Linked DNA regions of Homo sapiens: region 1 is linked to region 2. Evidence: fine-mapped expression QTL. A gene starts in region 2. The other region holds a variant in brackets. All regions are shown on one strand. Distances are from middle to middle. Region 1 overlaps TEP1 (telomerase associated protein 1). Region 2 holds the start of CCNB1IP1 (cyclin B1 interacting protein 1).

What was found.
Region 1: its variant is fine-mapped to the expression of CCNB1IP1 in T cells (TOPMed, PIP 0.97).

What each region holds. Positions count from the first base shown.
Region 1 is chr14:20,363,934-20,369,315 of GRCh38, forward strand. It overlaps TEP1 (telomerase associated protein 1), which reads right to left. Exons shown (of 55, transcript NM_007110.5): 54 at 4,865-4,969; 55 at 1,734-4,626. The coding sequence ends at 4,504. Among named protein-coding and RNA genes, the nearest start is that of PARP2, 23 kb to the left of the region's middle. The variant A/G (reference allele first, on the strand shown) is at 2,717.
Region 2 is chr14:20,331,229-20,336,610 of GRCh38, forward strand. It overlaps CCNB1IP1 (cyclin B1 interacting protein 1), which reads right to left and starts at 2,051. Exons shown (of 7, transcript NM_021178.5): 1 at 2,026-2,051. RefSeq lists an enhancer at 1,821-2,130.

The DNA of each region.
Region 1 (5,382 bases), 33 kb after region 2:
ACGGAATTTTGCTCTTGTTGCTGAGGCTGGAGTGCAATGGTGTGATCTCAGCTCACTGCAACCTCCGCCTCCCGAGTTCAAGCGATTCTACTGCCTCAGCCCCCAGAGTAGCTGGGATTACAGGTGCATGCCACCACGCCCAGCTAATTTTTATATTTTTAATAGAGACAGGGTTTCACCATGCTGGCCAGACTGGTCTTGAACCCCTGACCTCAGGTGATCTGCTCTCCTCAGCCTCCCAAAGTGCTGGGATTACAGGCTTGAGCCACTGCGCCCAGCCTAAATCTTACATTATTAAAAAAGAAGGATTAAGAGCCATTCTAGTGGGAAAGCACCAACACAGATATGTTCTTTGGGGATGTCATCTGTGTATTGGCTCCTGGTTCTTCTTTCAGACACATCGTAGGATACTTCCTCCCCATCCCTTGACATTAGGTATGGCCACGTGACTTGCTTTGCTTGTATTTATTAAATATGAGTGGAAGTGATGTGTTTTATTTCCAAGTGGAAGATTGAAGAGTTACTCGCCACGTGAAGCACAGAGCTCAAAATATGCGCAAAGTAGAGCAGGGCCTTCTCGCTGACCCTTAACGGGCCATGTGGCATGATTTAGAAATAAATCTTTGCTATTTTAAGTTGTTGAGATTTTGGGGTTGTTATGATAGCATAACTTTAATATTTTAACTGATAAAGAAACATACCCATCGTTCTGGATGAGAAGATTAGGTATTTGGAGGGTGGGAGGAGGGAGAAGATCAAGAAAAACAACTAATGGGTACTAGGCTTAATACCCGGGTGATGAAATAAACTGTACAACAAACCTCCATGACACAAGTTTACCTATGTAACAGACCTGCACTTGTACCCCTGAACTTAGAAAGAATACGAGTTTCACATTTTTTTGAAAACTAAAAAATTCGGTCCAGATTTTCTGATTGATTAAATATATACTAATAAATAAGACATTTATGAGAAAGAATAATGAGGTGATACTCGTACTGCTAGGTAACAAAAAGAACAGTCAAGTTAGCACTTATTGAATACTTACCACAAAAGTGTCACTGTTCTGTGTTTTACACCTTAACTCATTTAGTCCTTAAAACACTCCCATGAAGTAAGCACCATTATTATGGCTGTTGTACAAATGGGGGAAAGGAGGCATGAAGATTTGAACTCAGGCAGTCTTATTCCAAGTCCATGCTTTTTGCTGCTGTTACCCAGTCTCTCTAGAGTAGTGCTTCTCAAACCTTCTGAGATGAAGGACTAATTGTTCCTTTGTCTTTCTTTCTTCCTTCCTGCCTCCCTCCCGCCCTCCCTCTCTCTTTCTTGCTTTCTTTTTTTTCTTTTTTTTTTTTTTTTGACCAAGTTTCATTCTTGTTGCCCAGCCTGGAGTGCAATGATGCGATCTCGGCTCACTGCAACCTCTGCCCCCTGAGTTCAAGCGATTCTCCTGCCTCAGCCCCCCAAGTAGCTGGGATTACAGGTGCCTGCCACCATGCCCAGCTAATTTTTTGTATTTTTAGTAGAGACGGGGTTTCACCATATTGGCCAGGCTCGCCTCGAACTCCAGACCCCAGGTGATCCACCCGCCTTGGCCTTTCAAAGTGCTGGGATTATAGGCGTGAGCCACCGTGCCTGGCCTGTTTTAATTTCTTATCTGTCACGGAATAATACTTTTATAAAATATAATCAAAATGGATTATTAAGAAAATGAAATTAAAAAGCACACAAAATACAAGCCTCCATTTTTATTATTAAATTTGTCAGATATTACTTTTTAAATTCCTACACAGTTTCTAAATGGTTACTCTCAACTTCCGTACTTATCTCATTATAAAACATTAACAATTTGTGAACTGGCACTAGTCCATGAACCAAACTTTGAGTACCTCTGCTCTAGATTTCAAAAACAGATGTGGATATATGTGTAAAAATTTGGTATATAAAAAAGATGCTTTTCTAGATGGGTAGAAGAAAAGATTGTTCAAATGTCCTATGGTCTCACAATCCAGTGGTTATAACTGTAAAACTCATCCAGCCTTTGGGAGACACTGAAACTCCATTTAAAGATAAGAACTTGAAGGATGTTTAATGTAAACCTAAATTGATTTTCCCTTCAACTCCTTTTGGGTACATAATTACTTTTACCTAGAAGCTGTTCTTGACTTTACTCATAACAATTATACCATGACCTCACTGTCCTTCTCCAAGATGAAACAAAAAACCCTTCAAGTGGGCCTGGCCAACAAGACTGAATCTATTGAGCCTATTGGTCAAGTTAGCCTTTGCTTAACTTTCCCCAACCCCTTCACTCCAGCCTTAGCTGGGATGCTTTTATATAATTTTCAGAGCATGGAAGAGAGACAAATAGAGCTTCCTCCTGCAATTGGCCCAAGATTTTAGGGGAGCAAAAGGCAAAAGATTGAAATCAATGACTAGGATGATGCCATGCCATAGTTCGCTGCAGGATTTCTGGCAAGGATTATGGATCATAAATTTCAAAATACCATAACTAGGACTTCTAGTCACAAGGTAGATGTGGAAATGATGGTCCAGAAGGTATATTTCGAGGCTTGGCATGAGGCACATAAGAGAAGACAGAAGCATGGCCTATCAGCGGATGTCATCATCCTCTGGTCAGGATGGAAACCAGGGCATTGGATAGAAATAAAGTCCCTCAGGTTATTTCTCCATGTAAAACCTGGAATCAGGGTAC[A/G]GTGAGAGTAAAACTCAGTGCCCTTTAACTCCCCAAGTCTTCAAAACTCATTTCTAGACCAGGGTGTAGTGGTATTTCTCCAAGAGAAACCTACCAAACCAGGACAAAATCCCTGTAATAGCCTTCACTTATCTCCTACAAGTCCTTGAATTCTTGGCCACAGAAGACATTTCCTTCTTCTTTAACCCTCAGAAAGAAAGGGCCTGAGGAAACTAAAGTCAGTGGTTTCAATCTTTTGCCTTTTGCTCTCCTAAAAGCATGGGCCAAGGGCAGGAGGAAGCTCTAGTTGTCTGTCTCCCATGCTCTGAAAATTCTACAAAACACCCCAGCTAAGGCTGGAGTAACAGAGGAGGAAAGTTAAGCAAAGGCTAACCTGCTCAATAGATTCTTCCATATGATTGAATTTTAGAAATATAATAAAGTTCTTTTATGGGCCGGGCACAATGGCTCACGCCTGTAATCCCAGAACTTTAAGAGGCTGAGGTGTGCAGATAACCTGAGGTCAGGAGTTTGAGACCCACCTGGCCAACATGGTGAAACTTCGTCTCTACTGAAATACAAAAATTAGCTGGGCGTGGTGGTGGGCACCTGTAATCCCAGCTACTCGGGAGGCTAAGGCAGGAGAATCGCTTGAACCCAGGAAGCAGAGGTTGCACTGAGCTGAGATTGCACCATTGCACTCCAGCCTAGGTGACAGAGCCAGACTCTATCTCAAAAACAAAAAAAAAAAAAAAAGGTTTTTTACTTAAGAAAATCAGAGTTCATGGCTATGATTGTGCCACCTCTCAATTAGTTTTAATCTTTGTGAATTTCAATTTGAGAGAGAGTAAGACACTTTCGTGATCTCTTCTGAGAATGCCAATTACCATATTGACTAAAGTTGAAAGTCGTGTCAGAAGTTGGGAAAACCAGAAGGTTTGTTCCGCTTTCAATGGCTTGGCTCCTCACCTCTCATCTGGGTAGTTCTTTTTTTTTTTTTTTAGACAGAGTCTCGCTCTGTTGCCCAGGCTGGAGTGCAGTGGTGTCTCGGCTCACTGCAAGCTCCGCCTCCTGGGTTCACGCCATTCTCCTGCCTCAGCCTCCCAAGTAGCTGGGACTACAGGTGCCCGCCGCCACACCTGGCTAACTTTTTGTATTTTTTAGTAGAGACAGGGTTTCACTATGTTAGCCAGGATGGTCTTGATCTCCTGACCTCGTGATCTGCCCACCTCGGCCTCCCAAAGTGCTGGGATTACAAGCGTGAGCCACCATGCCCGGCCTCCTCTGGGTAGTTCTGAGAAAAGGGCTGTCTCTGTGACAGAAACATAGCTCTTTCTAAATGCCCTGATGCATGACTGACTTATTCTCCCTCCCTCATTCTTTCCCGATGAACTGAAAGGTCTTCCATGCTCTGTTCAAATTGAATGTTGGCCAACATCACTCTCATTCCTCCTCCTGGCAAGAATGGCATCCTAGGGTCCTAGGGCCCGCGAGTGATGCAAGAATTCTAAAACCTAGTTTCAAAAGAGTACCTACTAAAGATTTCATTCACTTTCTTGTGGTTCTAGTAAGGATTAATGTTGAATAAGAAGAGACACACATTAGAATGTACATATACATACACATAGAATATCCTCCTGTTCTAAATCCACATGAGAACACAGGCAGGCCTACACTTGAGATTTTTTGACACTTCATTTTTATAATTATCAAGAAATTATTAATTTTATAATTATTAAAAGCTACCAGTGTCTTCAGGCTTTGCATCTCTAGCACAAGGGGTATCATTATTCCCGAGTGGCACATCTTCATTCCCAATTCAGAAAGTACACATTGCCCTGCACGTCTCCCACGGCAAGCTGCAGGGTGGAGTTAGCGCCCAGCCAAGGTTCCAGGCAGCTCACTGACCCTTCGCATCGGAACAGGCCCAGCTACGATGGGAACAAAAATAGGGGAGGTCAGGGCTACAAGCCTCCTTACTAACTTATTTTTTCTCACATTAATGCCTTTTATTTAGAAACAGGTTAGTCATACATTGCAAGTGATTGAAGAAAACAGAATTTTGATCTTTTGCCCTTTCTTACTCTAAGTTTGCTGTCTTGTGACATCCCTTTGGGATAGGTGTGCAGGCGCACGCACACACACACACACACACACACACACACTTACCAGCTGCATACTGGGTCTCTCCCATAGCTTAACATCTCTGTCCTTCGAAGCTGTCACCAGCAACTCAGGTAGCACATGGAGGGCTGTGACAGAGCCCGAGTGAATCTCAAAGAGGAAAGGGGAGAGCAGAATGGTGAGTTCTCAGGGGCCCCTCCTCAGAGAAGCATCACAATGTGCTGTGTCAGACCTACAGCCCTCCTCCCTTAGTATTTCTTTTTTTTTTTTTTGAGACAAGAGTCTCGCTCTGTCGCCCAGGCTGGAGTGCAGTGGCGCAATCTCGGCTCACCGCAAGCTCTGCCTCCCGGGTTCACACCATTCTCCTGCCTCAGACTCCCGAGTAGCTGGGACTACAGGCACCCGCCACCACGCCCAGCTAATTTTTTGTATTTTTTAGTAGAGATGGGGTTTCACCGTGTTAGCCAGGATGGTCTTGATCTCCTGACCTCATTATCTGCCCGCCTAGGCCTCCCAAAGTGCTGGGATTATAGGTGTGAGCCACTGCTCCCAGCCCTCCCCTA
Region 2 (5,382 bases):
CATGCCCTTTCTGCCCCTGTGAATACAAAGATGACTTGGTTGTTCTGGGCCACTGCTGTCACTCCTTCCCAGCATTAAACACATGCTCATAACAAGATAAACCATCCCCACTCAAACCAAAGTGGGCAAAGATATATTCACATAAAAGCCATCAAGATGATTTTCCTTTCGGTAGAAAATCCTTTATTGCTCAATCAAGTTTAGAGTATTGATTGGTTTCTAATCACCACCGTGTACAAAATAAATATAAATAGGAAGCACTGCAAAATATCTAGAGTCCTTTTAAACAAGAATATACCAAAACCCAATTGAAATGCCTTTATGCCAACTGACTGATTTACAAGGTTATTCATTTGAGGGGGAAATATCAAGATCATAAACTATCTGAATACCTACTGATAAAAGCTAAATAAATTATAGTAGGTACATAAATTAGAATACTGAGTTACCATTATACCCTGAAAACCTACTGAAAAAATATATTTTTTAAAAAAAATAATTTTTAAAGAATACTATGTTACCATTATGAAGAATGTGAACACTCTACTCATGGAACTTAAGTGGAAAAAGTAAGACACATAGTAGAGTAGGTATAGTAAAAGGGAAGGATACCTACACATATTTGCTTATATGCATAAAATATCTTAGTAACACTGTTATGAGGGAGAGGAATTGGATGGCTTAGGGAAGGGGATAAGAAACTTTGATATCTTTTGAATTTTGAACCATGTGAATGTATTACCTATTCAAAAATATATATATATATGATGTGTATACATATATATATATATATATATATTTTTTTTTTTTTTTTTTTTTTTTTGAGACAGAGTTTCGCTCTTGTTGCCCAGGCTGGAGTGCAATGGCGCGATCTCGGCTCACCGCAACCTCCACCTCCCGGGTTCAAGCGATTCTCCTGCCTCAGCCTCCCGAGTAGCTGGGATTACAGGCATGCGCCGCCATGCCCCAAAAAATAAATTTTAACAATGCTTGAGAATTATAAAAATTATGGGAGGCCTACAAATACCTATTACTACATTCGATTAACTGGTTTATTATTTGTCTTTCTCACACTTTCTGCCTATAAGAATATCCAACACAAACATCACATTAAAATTAACATGTACCAAAAGAAAGGAATTCAGTGAAATGACATTGAAGGTCACTAAGCAAACTTTTTATGAGAAAACAGATATCCAAAATACTTGCTGTAAATAAATAAGTACTGCTTACTTCTAAAGGTACCTAACATTTATTACACACCAACTAGAGCCTAGTTTTTATATATTTTATCTGATCTTGGAAAGCTAAGCCTCGGAATGGCTCACTGCTTCTCCCAAGGTCACCAGAGCTGTAAACTGTGGCGCTGGAATTTAAATCTAGAGGCTTGCCCTGAACTAAGGTCCCTAATCTTTTTCCATAGCTTTTAAGGACACAATCACCACAGTGGCAACATTAAAAATTAGGAGCTCCTTTTAAGGCTTATCTGTCTTCAGAGTTTGCTGCCCAGGTTCACCAAGAAAGCCGAAATGATCTGAGCGAAGGCCAGGAGAAAGACAAGGTACGCTGCAGCTTCCACAAACCCAGTAAGGACCTGGGCCCTCTAGACACTCACCGGAGAATTAAACTCTACTGAGCTGAACGCCTTCTCCCGAAATCTGACCTCACCCAGGGAGATATAAATCAAAACAGCATTAGGATGATAATATCTTTCCCGCCAAGCAAAATGAAGCCGGCGTTTTCCAAGAACACACGCACTGTGCACATGAAGCACAGTCTATTGTTCCTGGGTCACCAGGACTCGGAGACGGAAGGCAAACCCAGTACTGCAGAGGCCCACGTGGAAACAAGCCAGGAAGAGCATTTCACTGCCTTCTCCCAACCTCCACACAGCCGAAATTAATCTCCTTGCGACTCACACACACTCCTATGCCGACTTGAAATAAAGGCCTGCCACCTGGGTATATAACTCAAATGGAAGAGAAATTCAAAACAATTAGAGAGCAAAATTAAGCGCACACTCACCAGCCCACCAAAACGGAGAGGGAAAGAAAGTGGAGAGACAGGAAGTCGCCTTGGGAAGTGTCTTCAGAACCTGATTGGCTAATGAGTTCAAGAGGATTCCCTCCTCCTTTACCTTAAAAGGTGCTGAAATGACGTAACCCACTCCACCCCTCTTTATGGACCAGTGATGCTTCTTGCACTATTTTTGGAGTGAACTTCTTAAACCGAGTTTCCTTTTGAGTTAATGTACTTAGGCAAAAACAGGCTAATTTAAGCTATTTATACACGTTGTTGTTTGCGTGGGCCTACTGCATTCTATTCTAAAGAATTTTCATCCCTTAAGGGTAATTTCTTATCCTTTGTGACCTCAACATGCTTAACTTATGCTAGGCAACAGATTCCATTATAAACAGTCTAGATCGATTCAAGTTAAAATTTACCTTCATTTTTTCCCCCCAGATCCAAAGCTGGCCTGATAAAATTTACCTTCAGGTAATCTTTGAACTAACAGGCTTAGTAGATAAAAGGTAGGTGGGTTAAGTGTTTTAGGCTTCAAATAAAATTTAGCTGATTTTGAATCTGAACCTTGCCACTTATTTGCACACATCTAAGCCTCAGTTCCAACTATAAAAAGAGGGAAAAAAGATGAAATCTTCCTACTCTGATGGTTATGAGGATTAAGTAAAATAATTTATATAATGTACTCAGTACAATGCCCGGTACACAGTACTCAACAATGTTAGCTGTTATTATTGTTATTACATATTTCTTGTTAGATTTATATTCCCAAGTAGACTATAAACAACTGGAGATCAAAGTGTACGTTTTACACATCTCCAGACAAAAACAATGACTTTCAATGCTGAGGACATAATTGATTAATCAATTATTTTGACTCCTCACATCGCCCTCCAGTTAAAGTATAGGTTCTTACTCTGTTAAATTTTTTTTTTTTTTGAAACAGGGTCTCACTTCGTGTCCCAGGCTGGAGTGCAGTGGTGAAATCTCGACTCACTGTAGCCTTGACCTCCCAGGTTCAAGCGATCTCCTGCCTCAGTAAGTAGCTGGGACTACAGGCGTGCACCATCACACCCAGCTAATTTTTGTATTTTTTTGTAGAGATGGGGTTTCGCCATGTTGCCCAAGCTGAAAGATTTCTTTTTAAGCCATAATTAGAGGACTCCCCGGCACAATATTCATCATTATTCTTAATAAATACTATTATAGTAATAGGGAATATATATACAAGTATGTGTTATATGTACAAATATACATGTAATGTGCAAATGTTTGAAGTATAAAGATTCAAGTTATATGGAGAAATGATACAACTCTAACTCATAGTAGTTCTCATTTTTTAATCATTTCATCCTATCCACCCTGCTTCCACCTTACTAGAAATTACCTATTCCAATCCACTTTAGAGTTTACCTGCCCCAAATTTCCCAACATTTAGCATCAAATGCTAATTTGTTATTTCATAATTGATTTATTGTAACTTCTAGAGTCAAAACATTTCTTGAATGTTTACTATAAATATTCAAGAAATGTAATATTCATTACCTTGTTTAATCTTCACATTAACCCAAGAATGTAAGCACTTTCATTATAACTATTTCACCAAAAAAAAAAAAAAAAAAAAGGAAACAGAGTTATAGAGATTAAGGAATTTGTCTATTTAGCAAGTGGTAAAGTCAGGATTCAGATCCCAGTTGCTATGGTTTGACTGTCCCCTTCAAAATTCATGTTGTCACTCTAGTTTCTCTTCATATCGCATAAATCTTTCACCTTTTACAAAATTCATGTTGAAACTTAATCCCTAAAGTGGCTGAAACTTAATCCTCATTAGAAGTGGGGCCTTCAAGAGGTGACTGGATCATGAGGGTTCTGCCCTCATAAATAAATTAATCTATTCATGGATTAATAGGTTATCATGGGAGGGGAACTAGTGGCTTTAAAGAAAAGGCAAAGAGACTTAAGGATAGCATGTTAGCAGTCTCAGCATCCTGGCCATGTGATTTCCTGCCACGCCTTGGAACATCACAGCGAGTCCCCTCCAGCAAGAAGGAGTTCAGATGCAACCCAGAGGCAGTCCTTAACCTTGGACTTCACAGCATCCATAACTGCAAAAAATAAATTTCTTTTTTAAAATAAATTACCCCACAGCCTAGCCAACATGGCAAAACCTCGTCTCTACTAAAAATACAAAAATTAGCTGAGCATGGTGGTATGGGCTTGTAGTCCCAGCTACTCAGGAAGCTGAGGTGGGAGGATCGATCACTTGAACCCGGGAGGCGGAGGTTGCAGTGAACCAAGATTGTGCCACTGCAGTCCAGCCTGAGTGACAGAGTGAGGCCCTGTCTCAAAAACTAACTAAATAAATAAATAAACCAGGCTTGGTGTGATGGCTTAGACCTGTAATCCTAGCACTTTGGGAGGCCGAAGCAGGTGGATCTCTTGAAGCCAGGAGTTCGAGACCAGCCTGGCCAACATGTCGAAACCCCATCTCTACTAAAAATACAAAAAATTAGCCAGGCATGGTGGTGCACACCTGTAATCCCAGCTACTTGGGAGGCCGAGGCAGGAGAATCGCTTGAACTAATGAGGTGTAGGTTTGGAGTACCGCTATACTCCAGCCTGGGAGACAGAGCAAGACTTTGTATCCAAAAAATAAATTAATTAAAAAACAAACTAATAAATAAGTGACCCAGTTTCAGGTATTCTGTTATAAGCAACAGAAAACAAACTGAGACAGCAGCCATCCAACTTGACAGCCCAAACTCAACCACCACATTGCACTGCTTCCTATATTGTGTGATTTCAGAAAACCTTAGAAAGTACAATATTCTTTTCAAATTCCCATTAAATATCTAACATTTCTTTATGATATTCTGTATTCCAGGCTTTAATACTTATAATAATCCATGATGAAATTCTCTTCAGCTGGTAACATCAAAATTTTGTGCTCTGTAAAATAACTTTGAAATTGTTTAAAAGTCGATAGATTCCTGGGGCCAGGTGTGGTAGGTCACATCTGTAGTCCCAATACTTGGTAGGTGGAGGCAGAAGGAGCGCTTGAGCCCAAGAGTTTGAGGGCAGCCTGGGCAGCATGGTAAAACAACTGTCTCTACAAACAATAAAAATAAAAAATTGCCAAGAGTGGTGATGCCTCTATAGTCCCAGCTACTAAGGTAGGCTGAGTCGGGAAGAGAGCATGAGCCCAGAAGGTAGAGGTTGTAGTGAGCTGTGTTTACACCACTGCACTCTAGCCTGGGCAACAGAGTGAGACCCTGTTTCAAAAAAAAGTAGATTCCTGGGACACACGTTCAGAGATTCTAATTCAGTGGGTGGGACTCAGGAATATGTATTTTAATAAGC